Linked DNA regions of Homo sapiens: regions 2 and 3 are each reported to be linked to region 1. The links are microRNA targets in miRTarBase. Many come from high-throughput screens and were not tested one by one. Region 1 holds a microRNA gene; each other region holds the end of a gene's coding sequence.

Region 1 (3,000 bases):
TGGGCGCTGTCTGGGCAAGCAAGCAGCGTGCTGGGCACTCTCCTCCCAAAAGAGGGGGTCAGGCTCCTCTTCCCTTCCCTCCCACCAGAGAGCTTTGCTGAGAGCGGCCTGCCTTGGTTCCTTAGCCCAAAGGTGGAGGGTGCTGGGCGCCAGTCCTGTGCTCACTAAACCATGGAGCTTCCCTCACAGCCAACTGGCCGCTGCTTCCCAGCCCCAGCATGGGCTCTCCTGGGCTGGCTGTCTCCTCCCTCCCTGGGCAGGGGTGCTGTCCTCTTGCCCACGCCCTCCTGCCTTCCTCCCTCAGGTCCGCAGGGGTGGAGCAGCTCATGTACATCAAGGAGGACTTGATCATCCCTCACGTGAGTCCCTTCAGCCCCAGTACCCGCAGTGGGTGCAGCACCCTGGGCTTTGGCTCAGGCTGGTGGGGGCAGTGTGCGCAGGCGGGGGGTGTGGGGAGGGGCCGAGATGGACCATCAAGACGCCGCTTTCCTGCCCTTGGCTCCCAGCATCACAGCTTCTACGACTTCATCGTCACCAAGGCACGGGGGAAGAGTGGTGAGTGCCGCCGACCCAGCCGCCCCCATAGCACCTTGCCGCCGATGTTGTCACTGGGGCAGCAGCGGGACATTGGGCTGTCACTTCTCCCCTGCAGGACCACTCTTCAACTTTGATGTTCATGACGATGTGCGGTTGCTCAGTGACGCCACTGTGGAGAAGGATGAGGTACAGCGTAGGGGGCCGTGTGAGGGGGAACGGGTGTCCCTGGGCTATGGAGGAGAAGCCAAGGGAAGGGGAGGTCAGCAGGCGGCCCTGTGCCCTCTTCCTCCCTTAGTCCCATGCAGGCAAGGTGGTGCTGAGGAGCTGGTACGAGAAGAACAAGCACATCTTTCCCGCCAGCCGCTGGGAACCCTACGACCCTGAAAAGAAGTGGGACAAGTACACGGTGAGGAGGGGCTGGCAGGGACCCCTCCAAGTTGGGGACGGCAGCCAGCCCCTGCTCACCCCTCGCCTTCCTTGTCTCCTCTGCCCACCTTGTCCTCACACTAGATCCGCTGAGCATCCAGGAGGCTGCGCGGCCCCGGCTCCTCAGCTCCCTCAGTGTGCCCCGTGGTGTCACCGGGACTCCAGGCACCCGCTCCCCTGCGACCATGCCAGGCACGCTGGGAGGAGGACGGCAGCTGCTCGTGTCCTGCCCCTGCCACATCAGTGACTGCTTTATTCTTTTCCAATAAAGAAGTGCACGTGTCAGAGCTGGAGCGCCTGCATTGTGAGAAACCATTTGTGTTCGGACCAAATTCATTTGTCATTTTGACCATTTAAAACTGTACAATTTGGTGGCATTTAGCACATTTGCCATGTTGTGTAGTCATCACCCTGGTCTGCTTCCAGGACATTCTCATCCCTCCAAAGGCCCTGTGGCCATAGGCAGGCTCCTCCCCTCACATCCCCCCACCAGGCTCTCATGTGCTTTCTGTCTCCATGGATTGACCTGTTCTGGACGTGTCATACGTGCCTGGGGAGTCTGTCACCGTGGCAGCCCCACCATCCCTGAGGTGTCTTTGTGGCACTGTGCTTCTTGACCGTGGGCACCTGTCCTTGGGCGGTGGTGGCTCTGGTGGGTGGGAAGGGGGTTCCTCCCCAGGCCTCTCTCCCAGGCCCTTGGGCTCCTGTTGAGTTTCCCGTAGGGGACGTGGCCGTCCTGTGGCCACGAAAACCCATCCTGCCTTCCTTGCTGTGGGCCGTCCCAGCACAGTCGTTCTGCTGTGGTGCCCTGTGCTCGACACTTGCCTGCCCTGCCCTAGCTAGCCCTGCTCAGACAGCCCTTGGGGCAGGATCCAGATCGGGGGTAGGTCCAGGACCCCTACTCTGCCACCTCAGCAGCTGATTCCCCAAGTTCCACTTGGCTAAGCTGAGGCAGGCAGGCCTGGCTCCAGGAGGCTGAGGAAGGCCAGCTGACAGCTCCCTGTTTCCTCCCCTGGCCTGAAGCCAAGAAGAAAGGGCAGGGGATAGCCCCTCACTGGCCAGGATCACCCCAGCCCTGGGTCTGGCCTCCCCTTCCTGGCAAATGTGGAGATCTGATGGTGCCCGATAGTGCAGAGGCCCAGTGTCTCATTCAGCGTGGCCGGGAAGTAGCCACCTGGCGTCACTAGGAATAGAGATGAGAGTAGACTAATGTTTTCTTTCTTTTCTTTTCCTTCCCTCCTTCCTTCCTTCTTCCTTCCTTCCTTCCTTCTTTCTTCCCTCCCCTCCCCTCCCCTCTCCTTCCTTTCCTCTTTCTTTTTTTTTTTTGAGACTGGGTCTTGCTCTGTCTCCCAGGCTGGAGTGCAGTGGTGCAATCTCAGCTCGCTGCAGCCCCCACCTCCTGGGCTCAAGTGATCCTCCCGCCTCAGCCTCCTGAGTAGCTGGGACTACAGGTGTGCACCACAATGCCCAGCTATTTTTATTTTTATGTACATGAAAATTGGAACAGAATTAAAAAAAAATTTTTTTTGTAGAGATGGGATATTGCTCTGTTGCCCAGGCTGGTCTCGAACTGCTGGGCTCAAGTGATCCTGCCACCTCAGCCTCCCAAATTGCTGGGATTGCAGGTGTGAGCCACTGTGTTTGGCTGAGTAGGCTATTTGATGCTCTGGAACCAGATAAGGTCACCAAGGATCAGTGTGTGCCAGGGGTGGTCACCCACTTTGCTCACCCGGGCCTCGTTCCTGGGGGCTGTGTGTGTAGAAAACAGAGAGGGAAACAAACAAAACAAAATGTAGAACAAGATGAGCTGGCCTTTGTGGCGTGGAGACATTTAAGCTGACATCCAAATGACAAGAAGTCAGCCATTCCGATGCGGGAGGGAGTGTTCCAGGCAGAGGGAACACCAAGTCTGGGTCAAAAGTGAGCTGGAGGCCGGGTGCAGTGGCTCATGCCTGTAATCCCAGCACTTTGGGAGGCTGAGGCGGGTGGATCACTTGAGGTCGGGAGTTCGAGACCAGCCTGACCAACATGGTGAAA
Region 2 (3,348 bases), not on the chromosome of region 1:
CTGGAAATCAGGGAAAAGCCTTTTTTTTGAGACTGGGGTCTTGCCATGTTGCCCAGACTGGAGTACAATGGCATAATCATAGCTCACTGCAGCCTTGACCTTCTGGGCTCAAGCAGTCCTCCCACTTCACCCTCCTGAGTAGCTGGGATTACAGGTGTGTGCCACCATGCCCAGCTAATTTTTATATTTTTTGGTAAAGATAGTGTGTTGCTATGTTGCCCAGGCTGGTCTCGAACTCCTAGAAAAAGCCATCTGAAGATGAAAGCTGCTCTAGACATATCTCTTGTATCACCCTATGTTAAAATGTCTTCCCTGTTTTATTATTGAATAAGAAACAAAAAATAATAAAGATAATTTTTTTAAATGATAAGGTTTTTAATGCATCTCTTGCTGTCTCTCAGAATAAATGGGATGCCGGAAGTGCAAGACATGAAATTTATCACTCCTGTACGGCGTTCGTCGAGGATTGAGCGAGCAGTGTCCCGCTACCCAGAAATGCTGCAGGAACACGATTTAGTAGTGGCTTCTCTTGATGAACTGTTAGAAGTGGAAGAAACAAAATGTTTTATATTCCGTAGAAATGAGGCGCTGCCTGTAACATTGGGGTTTCAAACCCCTGAATCATAATTTCTTGATGCTTTTTTTAAAAAAGGTGTTTCAGAACCAACATAAGACAAGAAATATTCTTGTCCAAGTGACCTGGAAAAAAAGAGAGGCATCATGGATGCAGATTATGGACGCTCAGGACTTAAGTAATTCACTGGGCTTACTCTCAAATTTTCTCTCCCCATGGGAAAATCTTTGCTTTATGTGTTTAAGACCAGTTTGCCAGTTTTACAGTATACATAAATTTCAAACTTTTGAATATTTACCCTACAACTATGATAAATATTTATACTTTATTGATCTACTTTAATCCCAACATAGTTTTTTATATCAGAAGGTTGGTCCCACAATATAATGGGACTTTTCTTTCTGCATCCACCTTAGCAGAGGGCAAGTTCTTTCATCGTGGAAGATCTGAACTTTGACGCTAGCTTGACAGGCTGAATGGACCTTGACAGATGGCCAAGTCAAAACCCCTCATTTTACAGATGAGTTTATGCTAGCTGTGCCTTTGCTCAGAGATCATAAATTTATGTGTGATCTTTGACTTTCATCACAGTATCCTTGTAAATGAGAGAGAATTCTTGTTTTTTCTATGCCAGGTCTCCTCAGATGAAACACAATCCTGAATTGGCATGGTCGTCTAGCTTTTATATTCAAACCTAGTTTTGCATTTGTTACTCAGAAACACTTCAAGTAACAAAAGGGGGGCAGGGGAGAGGGGTGGGGAGTGGACACTTGCTTCTTCAGTTCTTTGCTCAGCTAGGGTATAGCTGGCCTGAGAAGGCAGTGCAAGCCCCAGAGACTGTTGTAGGTTGCTTTTTCTTCCTCCTGGGCAACTATTTGTGGAAAGGTTTTACCTTAGTCATTATGTAAATATAATTGTGTAGAAAAACCTAGTCAACACATTTTAAATTTTAGCTTTCTTAATATTTAAGTATTATCTTAAAACAACATTAAATTTCTATTAGTTCCTGCTTGTTTATCTTATTTATTATAGAAAACCATGATAATGGCTTTGCATAGAGAATTAGGAGTTTGTCTAAGGATATACCAGTTGGCTGTCCTAAGAAACAAGGAGCATTCATTACCAAGGAGAATGGACTTTGATCAAAGGTCTATCAGCCTCATCCAGGAACTAGATTTTTTTAAGGGAAGCAGATCTATTTCTGAAAGTCAGATTTATAATAAAGCTCAAAAAACTGAGCTATAAACCTGTAATACCAGCAGACTTTCAATAAGAGACTCTTACAACTCAATTGTGGAAAAACTAATAATTAAAAATGGGCAAAGGACCTGAGCAGACATTTCTCCAAAGAAGACATAAGAAATGGCCAGTAGGTATAGATATGAAAAGGTGTTCAGCATCATTAATCATAAGAATAATGTAAATTAAAACCACTGTGAGCTATCACCTCACATCTATAAGAATGGCTATTAACAAGACATGAGATAAATGTTGATGAGATTGTGGAGAAAAGAGAACCCTAGTACACTGTTTGTGGGCGTGTAGACTGGGGCAGCCGTTATGGAAAACGGTATGGAGGCTCCTAAAGAAATTAAAAATAGAACTGTTATCTGACCCTCTTCTGAGTAAGTATGTACCCAAAGAAGATGAAATCACCAGCTGGGCGCAGTGACTCACACCTGTAATCCCAGCACTTTGGAGTGGGTGAATCACCTGAGGTCAGGAGTTCAAGACCAGCTTGACCAACATGGTGAAACCCCGTCTCTACTAAAAATACAAAAAGTAGGCGGGCATGGTGACGGGCACCTGTAATCCCAGCTACTTGGGAGGCTGAGGCAGAAGAATCACTTGAACTCGGGAGGTGGAGGTTGCAGTGAGCCAAAATTGCGTCACTGCACTCCAGCCTGGGTTACAGAGCAAGACTCCATCTCAAAAAAAAAAAAGATGAAATCATCACCTCATAAAGATATCTGCACTCACATGTTTGTGGCAGTGTTATTCTCAATAGCCAAGATGTGGAAACAACCTAAATGCCCATCAATGGACAAATAAAGAAAATACGGCATATGCATGCCGTGGAATAGTATTCATCCTTGGAAAAGAGGGAGTTCTTGCCATTTGCCACAACATAGATGGACCTGGAGAACATTATGCTAAGTGAAATAAGCCAGACCCAAGGAAAAATACTGCATGATCTCACATATGGAATATTTAATTTTTTAAGAAAGAGCTCAAGTACACAGAGAAAGTGCTTACCACAGATTGGGGAAGAGGAAATGGGGAGATGCAGGCCAAGGATACAAAATAGCAGATAAAATGAACAAGTCTAGAGATAGGGCTAAAGTTAATACAATTGTATTAGGGATTTTTGTTAAATAAGTAGATTTTAGCTGCTATTATCACAAAAAAACTGAGATGATAATGTTAATCTGCTTCACTATAGCAGCCATTTTATTATCTATATGTATCCCATAACATCATGTTGTAAATCTTAAATATACCTAATAAAATAAAATTGTCACCAAAATGCAAGAATTAGAGTTAACTTTACCTGTGAAGCCAAGTAATGCTCAGAGGGCTGCTTAGAGATCACAAAATCTGAACATAGGACGTAGAGGCATCAAATATTCAAAATCACCAGGCTTAGAGAGTCTGAAGTGAGTCCTGTGTTAGGAATATTCTTGCCTTGAACCTCAGACACTGTCCTAAGCCCGTCGACCAGGTTCTCATGATCGATCCTGCAGTGCCATCCATTGCTTGTGCACTTACTTTTT
Region 3 (3,298 bases), not on the chromosome of region 1:
ACCAGGGGCGGGAACTAACCAGCACTTTTCAAAAAAGGTCAAGCCGAGGCATCGTCCAGCCAAACAGGCCATTGGTGACAGGAAACACACTCAGCCAGAAGCAGCTACACATGTGTGTTGTGTCTCTGAGTGCTGGGTCCCTCAGTGGCTCTCGACTGGCCCCAGAGCCGGGGAGGGTCCACAGGCAAGCCAGTTTATCCTTCTGTTTGTTGTTGTTGTTGTTGTTGTTGTTGTTGTTTTAATTTTTGCCAAGAAGCTGAGAAAAACAATGCTGAGGGATTGCTACACAACCAAGCTGGGAGAACCAAGGATGGTTCCTTCGCTCCTTTCCCATGACCACTGAGCACACGAGGCACTGAGGTGGACTCTTAGAGAGCACTCTGCAGACATCCATCAAGCAGGTTGAAAGCAAACCAAGAAGAACAAGCTAGAACAGGGGCAGGGGGAAAAAAGGAAAAAGCAAACCAAAACCCAGAAAAATCCGTGTTTACAAGTATGTACACAAAAAGTCAGGGTTCAGGAGGCCGTTTGCCAGGAAATAGGGTCTTTGTCGGTAGACAGTCAGTGTGGGGTAGGGGTGTGTGTGTGTGTGTGTGTGTGTGTATACACAGCTTATGTAAATCGACTCTCCACAGAACGGGTGTGTAGACCACCAAGATCACCAAAGTGCAACTTGCCACTGGGTCAAGTTTCCCATGGAGACAATTTGAGGGAGGGGCCCTGGGAAGTTCTGAGGCCTCGCAGAAAGCGTGCAGATGTGCACTATCAATTTTGGGGCCCCCTCATCTGAGGAAAACCATCTCCAGTCCCTTCAGTACACTTCTGATACATTCAATTCATATAAGTGGTTGGCTGAATGTGTGTTTTTTTCTACCACTCCTTCTGAAATGTTCAAGAACATCCATACATCCGTCACAACTGTGGCAAGGGTAGCTACACGAATCAGCCTTGGAAAATGCAGATGCAATATTTCACATTCGCCTTTTACAAGCTAGCAAATGTTACATAAATAAAGCCGAAAATAATATGACCCTCCCTTCCTCCAATCAATAAATACCTATGGTTACAATCAACTTACTCTAAATCATAAGATGTTACTACTAGTCTTCAAGAAGGAAAAAATAAGTCCTTGAGAAGCATTAGGTGCCTATCATAGCTACCTACCTCGCTGCCTCCTTCCCGGAGGCACCTCTGTTCCTATACAGAACAAACTGGAAATGCTACGGACGCTCTGCCTCATGCACTTCCAGTTTCACCTGGGGTAGCTCTTCTGACTCAGGCCATGCCCTCTCATTAGAGGGGAAAACAAAATACCACACAAAGCAAGAACCCCACACAAAAGCTGGGGAGGAAGGACCAGATACACTACAGCTTTTGCATGCAACAAGTACCTACCCACTGGACGTGCTGCACCTTCTGAGTCCTTTAGCACCTTGAGAGAAAGAGTTGCTACGTCTTTGAGGGCTGTCGGGAGAGGGTGGTGTGGCTGTGCACAGAAGCAGGGCTCAAACCCAGTGGCCCCTGGAAAAACCTTTCCCCTACCCTCTCCCCAGCTCTTCCAAGCTCTTCCGACTCCCCTGCTGGGGCTTCCTAACACTAAAATAGACTCTTTTTTCATCATCTCTCTATTTACATTAAAGATACAGACACATCACTATACACAAAAGGCTATGACAGTGAGCAGCAGAATCAGAAGAGAAGAAACCCAAACCCAGCCTGGCTCAGCGGTCATTCTGCCAATGGGAGGTGCTGCCTCTCTTCTTTGCTGTTAAAATCCTCTTGTTGATAGGGAGGGAAATTGTGTTCCTTGAGGTTGCTCGCCCCCAGATTTTGAAATCAGCCCTTCCTGGGGGTGGCCAAAAGGAAACAAGTTGTTTTATTATTATTTTTTAAAACACCGTTAGCATCCGGTTTAATTATTCTATAAAAACATAATGACTGGATCCAGAGACCACAGCCTCAGACTCATTGGCAAAATGATATTTGGTCTCGCATTTGCCGCCCTGGCTTCCTCTACCCATATAAAGTTTCTGGAAGGGATCTGAGTAGAGAGAACCCAGGACACGTAGTGGGCAGGCGAGTCTGTGACTCAGTAAGAACCGAAGGACGGTGTGGTGAGCAGAACACCCCCGAGAGTTAGTTGATGCAGTTGGAAGGGAGAAGTGCACTGAGCAGTGGCTCCTAAATCCATCCTGTGGCTCCGGGGAGGCAGAAGGAGGAACGAGGCTTGGACTCACTGGCCGTCCTCTGTTCTCAGTGGCTCCCAAGTATATACAATAGGAACTGCTAGGGTGTTCTACACCTTCCCCAAGACATCAGGGACAAAGTGGGGTGGAGTGAGATGGGGAAGGAGAAGAAGGTATAGAAGACTCCAAGGGTCTTCTTTAAAGGTACCCTGGTACTCAGTTAACAATTCCTCCCAGGCAGCTAGCTCCTGTGAGAGCCAAAGACAATGGAAAAGAGGAAGGGGGGGGGGGCGGAGGGAGGGAGGGAGAAGGAGGGGCTGGGAAGGCATTCAAGCAGCTGCAGTTTCCGGATATGTGTCCACATCTGTGTTCTGTCTTCTGAAAAAGAAAAATTTCCCCCCAAACCACACCCTGCCCCTGCATTGTCTGTTTGACACAAAGTTTCAGGACCCTGAAAAAAAGCCCCAAAGTGCTTCTTCATCACCTTGGGGAATACAGGGTACGTGGTGGTGGTCTCTGTATTTTCCGAAGCTGGGGGTAGGGAGTGGGCAGACTAGCAAGGTCAGCCTCAGGAGGCTAAAACCTCTGACCTTGCTGCAGTCTTCTTAGATGTCAGAAGAGAACCAGGTTTCCAGGCAGAGCACTGGGGCTTCGACACAAACTGTCAGAAAGGCTTGTCGGGCCTGCTGGTCTTGGCATCCCCGCTGGCTGCTTTGCAGATGACGCTGTTCGTGTGCTTGCAGCGGCAACCAGGGCGGCGCAGACGGTCGTAGCCACGCTGGGCCAGCTTCACGCAGCCGGTGGCAGGCAGGTAGCAGAGCAGGCAGGGCAGCACCACGGAGAGAGCACCCATGAAGGACCAGCGGGCGCAGCAGTTGGAGCGGGAGCAGGAGCAGGGGTGGTCAGCGCAGGAGCCCTCATCGTCCTCATTCGTGCAGTGGTAGAAGATGCCCTGCACCAAACACATGCACGTGCCATAGTTGACCAGAGTCTGGGCTGAGCACAGGCACTCCTGGTTGCAGACCCAGCAGGAAGGCAACGTCCGGGGGGATGCACACTCCTTGCATTTACACTTCCCACAGGCCTCGCACAGCAAGAAGTGCTTGTCCAGC

The links. The annotated mature microRNA hsa-miR-6858-5p reads GUGAGGAGGGGCUGGCAGGGAC and lies in region 1 at 944-965, shown strand. An mRNA with a match to its seed (bases 2 to 7 or 8) in the 3' UTR can be bound and repressed. Matches are read on the target gene's strand: a 7mer-m8 pairs with bases 2 to 8, a 7mer-A1 pairs with bases 2 to 7 and ends in A, and an 8mer does both.
Region 2: miRTarBase lists CKAP2L as a target of hsa-miR-6858-5p. Seed matches in the 3' UTR shown: 7mer-m8 at 1,211-1,217.
Region 3: miRTarBase lists SPRY4 as a target of hsa-miR-6858-5p. The part of its 3' UTR that is shown has no 7-base or 8-base seed match.

The regions. Positions count from the first base shown.
Region 1 is chrX:154,449,377-154,452,376 of GRCh38, forward strand. MIR6858 (microRNA 6858) reads left to right here and starts at 944; the gene lies at 944-1,010. FAM50A (family with sequence similarity 50 member A) reads left to right here. Exons shown (of 13, transcript NM_004699.4): 9 at 305-359; 10 at 507-555; 11 at 653-723; 12 at 833-943; 13 at 1,048-1,278. The coding sequence ends at 1,056.
Region 2 is chr2:112,736,102-112,739,449 of GRCh38, reverse strand. CKAP2L (cytoskeleton associated protein 2 like) reads left to right here. Exons shown (of 9, transcript NM_152515.5): 9 at 402-3,101. The coding sequence ends at 627. It overlaps NT5DC4 (5'-nucleotidase domain containing 4), which reads right to left. Exons shown (of 17, transcript NM_001393655.1): 17 at 355-537. The coding sequence ends at 514. Among named protein-coding and RNA genes, the nearest start is that of NT5DC4, 17 kb to the right of the region's middle.
Region 3 is chr5:142,311,359-142,314,656 of GRCh38, forward strand. It overlaps SPRY4 (sprouty RTK signaling antagonist 4), which reads right to left. Exons shown (of 2, transcript NM_001127496.3): 2 at 1-3,298. The coding sequence ends at 2,851. Among named protein-coding and RNA genes, the nearest start is that of SPRY4-IT1, 5.3 kb to the right of the region's middle. RefSeq lists an enhancer at 1-61.